Linked DNA regions of Homo sapiens: region 1 is linked to region 2. The links come from fine-mapping of genetic effects on plasma protein levels. Region 2 holds a variant in brackets. A gene starts in the other region. All regions are shown on their forward strands.

Evidence for each region. PIP is the posterior inclusion probability: the model's chance that the variant is causal. The UK Biobank Pharma Proteomics Project read protein levels with antibody pairs (Olink). The fine-mapping took linkage between variants from a reference panel, not from the people measured, so its PIPs are less certain.
Region 1: FGF23 starts here. The variant in region 2 is fine-mapped to the plasma level of the FGF23 protein (UK Biobank, PIP above 0.99).

The regions. Positions count from the first base shown.
Region 1 is chr12:4,377,076-4,382,460 of GRCh38, forward strand. It overlaps FGF23 (fibroblast growth factor 23), which reads right to left and starts at 2,637. Exons shown (of 3, transcript NM_020638.3): 1 at 2,297-2,637. The coding sequence starts at 2,507.
Region 2 is chr13:32,931,712-32,937,096 of GRCh38, forward strand. No RefSeq gene overlaps it. Among named protein-coding and RNA genes, the nearest start is that of LINC00423, 23 kb to the left of the region's middle. The variant A/T (reference allele first, on the strand shown) is at 3,230.

The DNA of each region.
Region 1 (5,385 bases), not on the chromosome of region 2:
CAATTTATTTTGCTGCTTCTCAGTCATTTTAATTCACTCTAACTAGCACTCAGTGATCCCTTGGGGCCTGATACGAGGTGGGCTTTCAAGGAAAAGGTCTAAGTTCAGACTGCCAGCCCAGGAGGTTGACTCTTCACACTCACTCCCCACCGTAGCCGGCCTGTTCTGTTCTACCCTAATTCTTGTTCAGGAAGAAACGTCTTTAAGGAGTTCCTTTCAGCAACGGGATTCCAGGATTCGAGACAAGTTGTATAAACATTCTCTAGTTGGATGCAGCCCTTTCCATCTAAGAGAATCAAAATAATTTACCATAATCTACTATTCTGCATTTTAAATCACATATAGTCTTTTTTTTTTTTTTTTTTTTTTTTTTGAGATGGAGTCTCGCTCTGTCACCCAGGCTGGAGTGCAGTGGCGCAATCTCGGCTCACTGCAAGCTCTGCCTCCCGGGTTCACGCCATTCTCCTGCCTCAGCCTCCCAAGTAGCTGGGACTACAGGCGCCTGCCACCACGCCTGGCTAATTTTTTGTATTTTTAGTAGAGATGGGGTTTCACTGTGTTAGCCAGGATGGTCTCAATCTCCTGACCTCGTGATCTGCCTGCCTCGGCCTCCCAGAGTGCTGGGATTACAGGCGTGAGCCACCACACCTGGCCCACATATAGTCTTGAATTAGAGTAAGGGTGTCCCCTCCATGAGACATGCAAAATTGCATTTCCTGAAAGTCTGGTAGTGAGCTGGCTGACAAGGTAGGACGACAGACCATGAGGTCCTTGAAGGGTTGTGTCTTAGTTTTCAGCCACAGCGCTTGGTAGAATGCCAGGCACATGGTAGATCCTATTAAATATCCATTGAATAAAATGAACAACACTTCGGGTGCATCAAGTGTATCCAGATTTAATTGAAATTTTTGCCATGAGACTCAAACTTGGTTTCCAAGATGTTGACTCCTGAGTCTTACTATATTCTCTGGAGTTCTGGAACCTGTTTGGTATTCGGAGAGAACTTTCCTCTCTCCTTTTATCTCCTGTCAATATGCATTTAGTACTTGAAGAGGTTAAACTGTCAATTTCGCATGTTATATATCTTGCAACTTAATTTTGCATGTTGTATATCTTGCAACCAGGTTTAAGGACCTTTGGAGCCTAGAAGAATAAATGCCTCACACACAGCAAGGTCACAGCAAAAATAATTAATTTATTTATTACAACAATAAAGGGCAAATCATAATTCCTATGTTTTCTTTAGTTAGAGATTGTCTAACTAATTTTTCTTTCCTTTAATTTGAGCTATATTGGATCAGTTTGCATTTTTCTGTATGCTTTGAGGTGTTTTCTCACGTTTTCTTAAAATAGAAGATCCAGTCTTTTTCAATATCTATCCCTGCTTTCACCACATTACCCCTTATATAGGTGCACACAAAGGGACCCTCATTTGAATCATTGCTAATGGATTGATTATTGTGGATTGTGATCCAATTCTCCACAAACCTGATCTTTAAAAACATTCCAGTTGTCTCATGTTGCCAATAAGTTTCTAACTAGCTTGACTTGCTACTGACTGGACACCTTTCAGTTCCACAGAGAAGAATCACCAACTCATACTGGGTACCTGGGTACCTGGGTGTCTGAAACACCCATTAAACCTGTTGGATGGATGGATGGATGGATGGATGGATGGATGGATGGATGGATGGATGGATGCATGGACAAATGAATGGGTGGATGGGTTGTATACTTGGCCATTCTCACCAAGACAACATACATGGACAGTCTGTCTTTAATACATTTTTCCAAGAATTTTTATAAGGCCAGAGTTGGAAAGAGCCCCCAGATTTATCTATAACAATCTGGGTATGACCCAGGAATCTTTACAACCTCCCTAGTTAACCCAGTCCAAAGTCCATGAGCTGAAACTTAGTGTCTGTTGATCTGCCTGGCTTCTTTTTCTCTTAGACTCCTTGCCTTTCTTTCTGTACATTTTTTCAATCTTTTGACGGGGCAAAGGGAACATGGCTCCTACTGTGGGAAGGGTTTTAGTTGAAATAAAAATTATTCATATTGAGAAAAACCAGCAAATGCTAATTAGGAGAGTGACAGAATCTTCCCCTAAGTTTTAAATACACACGCACACACACACACACACAAACACACACACACACAAAGACAATAAGTGGTTCCTGGGCAGAAAGCTAGGAGGGTTGGATTAGCCCTCCAGTCTAGTCCCCAACCTCCCCAAGCCTCCTGTAGATGGACAACAAGGGTGCTCCCCTTCTTCCCAGCCTGAAGCCCTACTCACTGTAGATGGTCTGATGGGGTGCGCCATCCACATGGCCATTCTTGTGGATCTGCAGGTGGTAGCTGTTCCTGGCTGTGGCTGTGTACAGGTGGATCAGGCCACCCCAGCTGGAGCCGAGCAGTGGGGAGGCATTGGGATAGGCTCTGAGGACGCTCATGCTGCAGACGCTGCACAAGGCACAGACCCAGAGCCTGAGGCGGGCCCCCAACATCGTGCCCTGCTCTGAGTGGCTGGTGCTGAGATTGAAACCTGACACTCCTGTCGGGACTCTCCTGGCCCAGGCCTTACTGGCCTTTTCCTTCTCCCTTGCAAGTAGCTGGTGTGAGGATCCTAGACTGGATTCCCTCCTTTTTGCCGTCAGACTTTTAAAGGGTAGCAGTGTGACATCAAACAGGAAAAACTCCACTGTCCACATCCTCTGTGTTGTAATCAGCCCATTGAAAGAAAGTGCAAAGACCCCGGAGGCGCACGGAAGGCACGTCGGTTCCAGACACACACACCCCTCAATTTCAAGCCAACGCTCCAAAAAATGAATGACGTGTGGGCAAAAGTTATCTGCCACTCTGGGCTGTCTGTTGACCTGTCCCACTTCCATCAGGAAATGTGAAGGCAGCCAGCGGTTCCCAAAAAAAATCCAGCTTCAGTCAAGCAGTCAACCGACTCCTAGGCAATTAATCTCCTGTCGAGTTTACTTATTTTGGTTTTCTTTAAATTCCAATCAGCAAGTATGTATCCAGTGCTTAATCTGTGAGCAGGATTTGGTGGGTAGCTTGCAGGATATAGAGATACATGACACCATCAGGCAGATGGCATCCTCTAAGAACACCCACTTCATGAAAGATGGGAGCTAGGAGCAGGGGCACAAAAGCCAAAGTTGCCATTTTGGGAAGATTTTGAAATGGAAGAAAAAGAAGTAAGGCCTTGAGGTCAGTGAACATGCCAAGGTTCAGTTTCTCAGCTTCCTTAGTCTGGACTTCACTGAATATGCCAAGGTTCAATTTCTCAATTTCCCTAGTTTGGACTATCGAGGGCAACTAAACTAGTAGTCTCTCCAGTAGTAAGGAGACTCATTCAGAGACCTCATGGGGATTGGAACAGCTGCTGGCTGAGCACTGGGGATCCGAGCCTCAGGACAGGGTGTCCCCACATTTAGTGTCTGTACATGAGTGCTCAGCTTGGTGTTGGATGCCTGCCTGCAGATGCTGTTCACAGTGAGCCCTCTGGGAAGCTACACCTGATGTCGGGTGGAATAGTCCTGGCACATACAGTCTAAAGGGGAGCAAGCTACTGGAACACACACCCGAAAAAACACACAAGGAGTTTGCTATTCTTCCAGTTTCCCTGTACTGAGTATATGCCATGTACAGGCATCAAGCTAGACTCATGTACAGGTTGATATAGGAGACAGCAAGATGTGATTCCTATCTTGAGGAGCTCAAATCTAATGCAGGAGGCAGATAAAAATAAGTAACTATAATACAAAATGAGTGCAAGCTTACAGGTATAGACAGAAAGAGATGGCATTTGTTACCCTACATTTGTACAGTTTTTTTTTATAGTTTACAAAGCATTTTCACATCTATTAGCTTATTTGAACCTCACTGCCACTCTGTGAGATAGGCACTCCATGCATTATCAAGATTTTAATACTTTACATGAAGAAATGGAAATCTTAGTGTTTCCATGTCCAAAGGCACAAAGCAAATAAATGGTAGAGCCAGGACAAGGTCTTCTCCTTCCCTAGGCTGCTTCTCCAAAGAATCACAGCAAGAACTAACGCTCATGGAGAGCTTACTGTTCCACTTACTGCTCTAAGTGCTTTACTTGTAGTAACCCATTTCATCTTCAGAATAACTCTTTGAGGAGATGCTGTTATTTTCTTTATATAGATCAGGAAACTGATCTATGCACACAGTTTAAGTAACTTGCCTAGAGATAGAAAGGTAACATGTGGAAGAGGTTGGATTTGAATCCAGGTCTGGCCCCAAGACCTCCTAAGCACTTTTCAAGGTGTCCAAACCCATACAACATGTTAGAGCTAAAGCCATGAGAGCCAGGAGCTTGGTAAAAAAGTGCAGGTGGCAAAGCAGTCCTCTGTTATTCTCTAAAAACCCAGGCTTTTACCCAGGATGAATCTCTAGGACACATGGTGCTTGTCTCCCCAGGGTTGAGTGGAAGAAGTATGACATGAAATGTTTATATGTAAAACAGTCTTCTTTACTAATAGCCACAGAATGGATTATAAATATAATGCTACGTCTTAGCTAATTGAAGAAATAGCTAGCTTTCAGAATTGAGATGCAAATCACTTAGGAACATTTGCCCTGCATTTCTTATTCTGGTTGTGAAAGGTAAAGAGATGGGAAGTAATTATAAGGCAATCAGCAGCCATTGAGAACCTTCTCCATGTAAGAGATGAAAGGGAGGGTGTAGGACTACAAAGCAGGACTAACTCCTCTAGGGGCTCCCAGTGTAACTGAGCAGGGAACATCTTCGTTCAATACAAGGCACTGTGTGGGAGGAGCTTCATTACTAGGAGCAAATTAGTGAAGATGTGGTACTATATTTATAAACCATTCTGTGGCCATTACTAAAGAAGCCTGCTTTATACATAAACATTTAATGTCATACATCTTCCAAACAACCCTGGGGAGACAAGCACTATGTACCCTAGAGATTCACCCCGGGTAAAGACCTGGGTTTCCGAGAGAATCATGGAGGAGTGCTTTGCTGCCTGCACTTTTTTACCAAGCTCCTTCACAAAAAAGAAATGTTGACCAGGCGTGGTGGTTCATGCCTGTAATCCCAGCACTTTGGGGGGCCGAGGTGGGCAGATCACTTGAGGTCAGGAGTTCGAGACCAGCCTGGCCAACACGGTGAAACCCTGTCTAAACCCCGTTTAGTAGAAACCCTGTCTCTATTAAAAATACAAAAAAATTAGCTGGGCGTATTGTGTAATCTCAGCTACCTGGGAGGCTGAGGCAGGAGAATCACTTGAACTGGGAGGTGGAGATTGCAGTGAGTTGAGATTGCACCACTGCACTCCAGCCTGGATGACAGGGCGAGGATCTGTCACCAAAAAAAAAAAA
Region 2 (5,385 bases):
CAGTACCATGCTGTTTTGGTTACTGTAGCTTTGTAGTATAGTTTAAAGTCAGATAGCATGATGCCTCCAGCTTTGTTCTTTTTGCTTAGGATTGTCTTGGCTATACAGGCTCTTTTTTGGTTCCATATGAAATTTAAAGTAGTTTTTTTTTCTAATTCTGTGAAGAAAGTCAATGGTAGCTTGATGGGGATAGCATTGACTCTATAAATTACTTTGGTTAGTATGGCCATTTTCACAATATGGATTTTTCCTATCCGTGAGTATGGAATGTCTTTCCAGTTGTTTGTGTCCTCTCTTATTTCCTTATATGTGAACTTACTGCTAAAAGCTGAGGTATTTGCCAAGAGAAAATTTGAGAAGGTAATTAGAACAAGGGGAGCCATATGATAGGTCATCATGCATGCAGACTTACAAAAGGCAGAGGAAGTTCAGAGAGGTGGTGGCTATTGGAGAATGAGAGAGGGGAATGTTGTCACTGAAAGTATGACAGATCCGAGGTTCAACTCATGAGCTGTAGCTCATAAAAGACATGTGGTTTTTGAAAGATAAAGAGAACTGGGGGGTAGGAGGCAAGATTTGGAAACTTAGTTGAGGCACTTTTTAACTAAAAAATCTACAAAAATTGTGCTAATATGAAAAAAGCATATTTTACTGCAACTTTGACTATTTTATACCTAAGGGTAAGCTGAGTTAGAGAAAATCTGACAGTGAAAATGTTTAGAGATATTTATAGAAATAAATAGAATGAAATGAAATAAATATCCAAAAAAGAATGACTGGAACTGGAATGTTGCCATGACTAAGAAACTATTAACCCCACTTTATAGATGAGGAAAGGACTTTATGTTTTTGCATAATCTGTAAGTTTAGGGTGAATCAACACATTCTTGTTGTGTGATAAAATATTTTTTTTTTCTCCCTGTAAAACACTAGCAAGTAAAATGTGCTCTACCCTGGGTTTGTTATGTTTGTTCCTAAGGAAAGTCTTAAGTATTGCACTCGTTCTGCTACTCAAAAAGCACCTTTAATCACTTGGCAGATGTGTCAGTGGCAAAGGAAAACGTGAAATCCCGAGCAGCTCATTAGATGAGCTGTAAGATAGAATTGGTTACATTTAATTTCAAAGTTCTCTCACATTTCTCTGTAAAGGGCTTATTGCAATATAGAATTATGAACTGGGAGGTTGTCTTATCTTGGGAAAATTTAATATTTCATCTTGTCCTTTAATGTGCTTGCCAAGGTATTTAAAGAGCTGAGTAAAAATTAGGATGACTGGTATTAGAATGATGAAAAATGCTTTAAGCACTTTAAACCACTGGGTGTAAATTCAGGAAGATAAGGTTAAGAAGCCCGCGTATGCTGCCACATGGTAATGTCAAGGTTGAAATGGACATGGTGACATTCCACAGTGCAATGAATGACAACCGAGTGCAATTAGCTGCCTCGTGTAGCCAGGTCTCCCAAGACTCATCAGTGGCACTGATGGGGGTCATATCAACACCGATAGATCAGCTTGTGCCCTCACCTACTGACAGCACCTCCTGCCTTGGAAAGTTCCCTCAAGGCAGGTTTCAGTGTTCCTGGGGTTTCATGTGTGTATTCCTGAGTGATCACTCCCCTAATAGCTTTGCCATGTCTCCCTTCTCTTCTATGTTGAAGCCTGAGGAAGAGGTGTGGGGAAGGGTGAAAATGTCCCCATCTAGTTCATCTTATGCTCTGTGAGCCATGGGGAATGCAGGCTGCTAGTGCTCTCAATGATAGAGGCTGCAAGGAAGCCTCTCTCTTATTCTCCTTGCAACCTTTCTGTTCCTGGGATGCAGTCCATGAAGATAGACATGGGATAGTCCACAGGACAAACACTGCCAGACTCAAAATAGTCGTTCTCCTCTGGTTCTGAGGTCTGATTACCTGGCCAAGTGGATGCTTCTGTTGCCTTGGTTCCTTAAGGGGGATTTTTTACAGTTAGGCTTTCTGTTCTGTGAAGGCAGGGGCCATACTTGTCTTGTTTAACTCTATATCACTGCAGGGTGGGCAAACAATAAATACTTGTTATCGCTCTGCCTGGGACTCTCAAGTCTTTTGGAAAACAGGTTCTCCTGGGGCTGGCCCCACAAGTTTGCTGGAATTGCCTACGTTCCATCTTGGGCTCAAGCTGGAACCCTCACTGAATTTAAAATGTCTCATAATATATCTTCTGGTAGTTACTTTATGCTTAATTGTTTTATTCCTAGAGAGCTTCGAAATTGTGATAACCTTTATTGCCCAGGTTGTTATCATTTCAACTTATGTTTTTCCTGACCTCCACCGGTTAGTTTTCTGTTTAAATGTAGACTAACATGAGCATGTCAACATTTTAATCATGACGAAATAATTGCCCCTTGCCTTGACACTAACAAATCATATGACCTTGGGCTAGGGTTGCTAGAGAAAACACTGACCATCATTCAGTGTGAATTTCTGGTAAGTAATGAATAATTTTTGGTATAATTATGTCCCATGCATTTTGGTGGTAGAGCGTAGTGCCAAACTTATGCTAAAAATTCTTTTTGGTCTGAAATTCAAATTCAGTGAGTTTTCCTGTTTTTCTTTTTCTTTTTTATTCTGGACAAATCATTTTTATTTTCTGTGTTTCTGCTTGTTCATCTACAAAATGAAGTATCAACCTTGTGTACCTTGTTAATCTAAAGCTCAAATGACATTAAGTACATTAATATTTGTTCATAAGAATTTTCAATAAAATGTGAGATATTGTTAGTCATACAATAATGTTTATTGGGTATCTGTACTTGTTCTTGCTGATGTTAGCCACATTTACTCTAGTGAATTAAAAACAAGTAGAAGACAGGTTTTGCTTTTAGGAGCTTTGTAGATAGCTAAGAAGATAAGCTCTATGGCCTTTCAGACACTACAGAAGATAAGCAAACACAGTGTAAGGTAGTAAGAACTGTAGTGTAATGCTAGATGAGACTGGACAGGCAACACTCCAGGAGGATGCTGAGGATTGAGTCTTGCATTGGACCTGAAGGACTTAGTGGATCCTGGACTCCTTGCTGGGAATCCTCAGCAATCCTGTGTGTGTCCCTCTGTAGAATGACAGAAACAGGGAACATTATGAAGTCCAGAAACAAAGCTGAAAAACAATGAAGAAATTTGCCTCTGGAGCATAACTTCAGATCCATGGTCCAAGTTCCAATGTGAGTTAATTTGTTACCATTTTTAATTTATTTTC[A/T]ACTTGGAAAACAAGCTAACATAATGTTCTTTACAAATGAGAAAATCCTCCAGTCCCCCATATAATCCCTCTTTTTAGTACATATTTAAAATGGAAGATTATGCTGTTTTTTAATTCATTTATTAATTATTCATTTAAAAAATGGGTATTGAGCACCTGCTATGTACCAAGCAGGTGCTAGGTGTATAGGGTTTTTTTTTCATTATTATTTCAATACGTTTTTGGGGAACAGGTGGTGTCTGGTTACATGAATAAGTTCTTCAGTGGTGATTTCTGAGATTTTGGTGCACCCATCACCAAAGCAGAACCCAATGTGCAGTCTTTTATCTCTCACCCCCCTTCCACCTTTTCTTCCAAGTCCCCAGTCCATTTTATCACTCTTATGCCTTTACATCCTCATAGCTTAGCTCCCACTTACGAGTGAGAACATACGATGTTTGGTTTTCCATTCCTGAGTTACTTCACTTAGAATAATGGTCTCCAATTCCATCAAGGTTGCTGCAATGCCATTATTTCGTTCCTTTTTATGGCTGAGTAGTATTCCATAATATACATATACCACAGCTTATCCACTTGTTGATTGATGGGCATTTGGCTGGTTCCATATTTTTGCAATTGCAAATTGTGCTGCTATAAACATGCATGTTGATGTATCTTTTTCATATGATGACTTCAAATATAATCAACTATCAAATGATAGTTGTACTTTTAGTTATTTAGGGAATCTCTACACTGTTTTCCATAGTGGTTATACTAGTTTACATTCTCACCAGCAGTGTAAAAATGTTCTGTATAGGGTATTTAAAGATAAAAATGGGACAACTTCATTGAGGAGCTCACTTCACATGCTTCTATAAATGGATCTTGAGGTCTTGTGTAGAGATTCTAGTGGGACAGCTAAGCTTTGAGTGTGCCCTTGACCTGGGAACCCTCTTTCTTTCTCTGTGAGGAATTACTTTTCCCAGTGAACTTGATATTTGTGTAGGATCATATGATCTAACCAGCTGATCAACTCTGGTCTTTAAGAAAGTACAGTTCACTCCAGCCTGGGCAACAGACGGAGACCCCGTCTCTTAAAAAAAAAAAAAACGACTGATGTTATAGTCAGATAACCATCATTTTTGAAAAACAAAATGAAGTCTGATGCAGAAGACAGGCGTGTCATGAACATAGCTAATACAGTAGGATAAAGAGATTGTGCAGATGCGGTAGAAGCAGAGGATACGGTGCCTGTGAGGGATTTCAGAGTAGGTGGCCCTGGGCTTTAAAAGAGCAGGGAGCTCACTACGGTGTGAACGTGGGAAAACATTCCTGGCAGGATGAACATCTTGTGCCTTTGAATAGCATTTGTCGTATTCTGCCTCACGGCTTCCTGCCTTCTTTCCACAGTTCCACCACCAGATTGTGGGTGCTTCCAGGCCCAACAGTGCTGTGTCTTAATTGTTTTTATATCTTCATCATCTAGCATAGTGTCATTCAAGTTGCAGTTTTCACTCAATGGGATAAAATTGTGTTGATAACCTTTTTGAATAGAATTCATAGTGGCAAGGTGGCATATGCAGAGCATGCTCTACTTATTATTAACAGGCACTGTGAAGACAAAGACTTTGGTTCAGACATTGGCTGGCCGCTCACTGGATTGTACAGTCTTGAGCAAGATACCCTCCCTGAAACTTTTCCTTAGAAGAAAAATGAGAAAAATAATATCTACTTTGTATGTTGAAGACTGAATGAAATTGTGTGTAAAATGTGACTGGCATAATTGCTGGCATCTTATTCAATATTAATTCCCCATACTCACCCATAATATACTCATTAAGCTGACTTAGAATTTAGTTGTACATTTGTTGGAAGAAAAACTTAAGGACCTGAAATATAGCCCACTACAGAATAAAAATTCTGCTTGTGGGAAATATAACTATGTTTACAGCTTCTTACACATTGTTACGTACCCACATATTACAAATATATCATGTTTACACGATTCCCCTGTGGGGGATGCTTTGGTTGGCGGATGGTTATGCATGCATCCCAGATGTGTTCTGCTGAGGCTGCATCTGGAAATCAGGAGGATATTTGCAAGACATCATGAACATTTGAAATGTCAAATTTAACAAGTATTGAATATATATTTTGATGCAGAATCATTATAGATA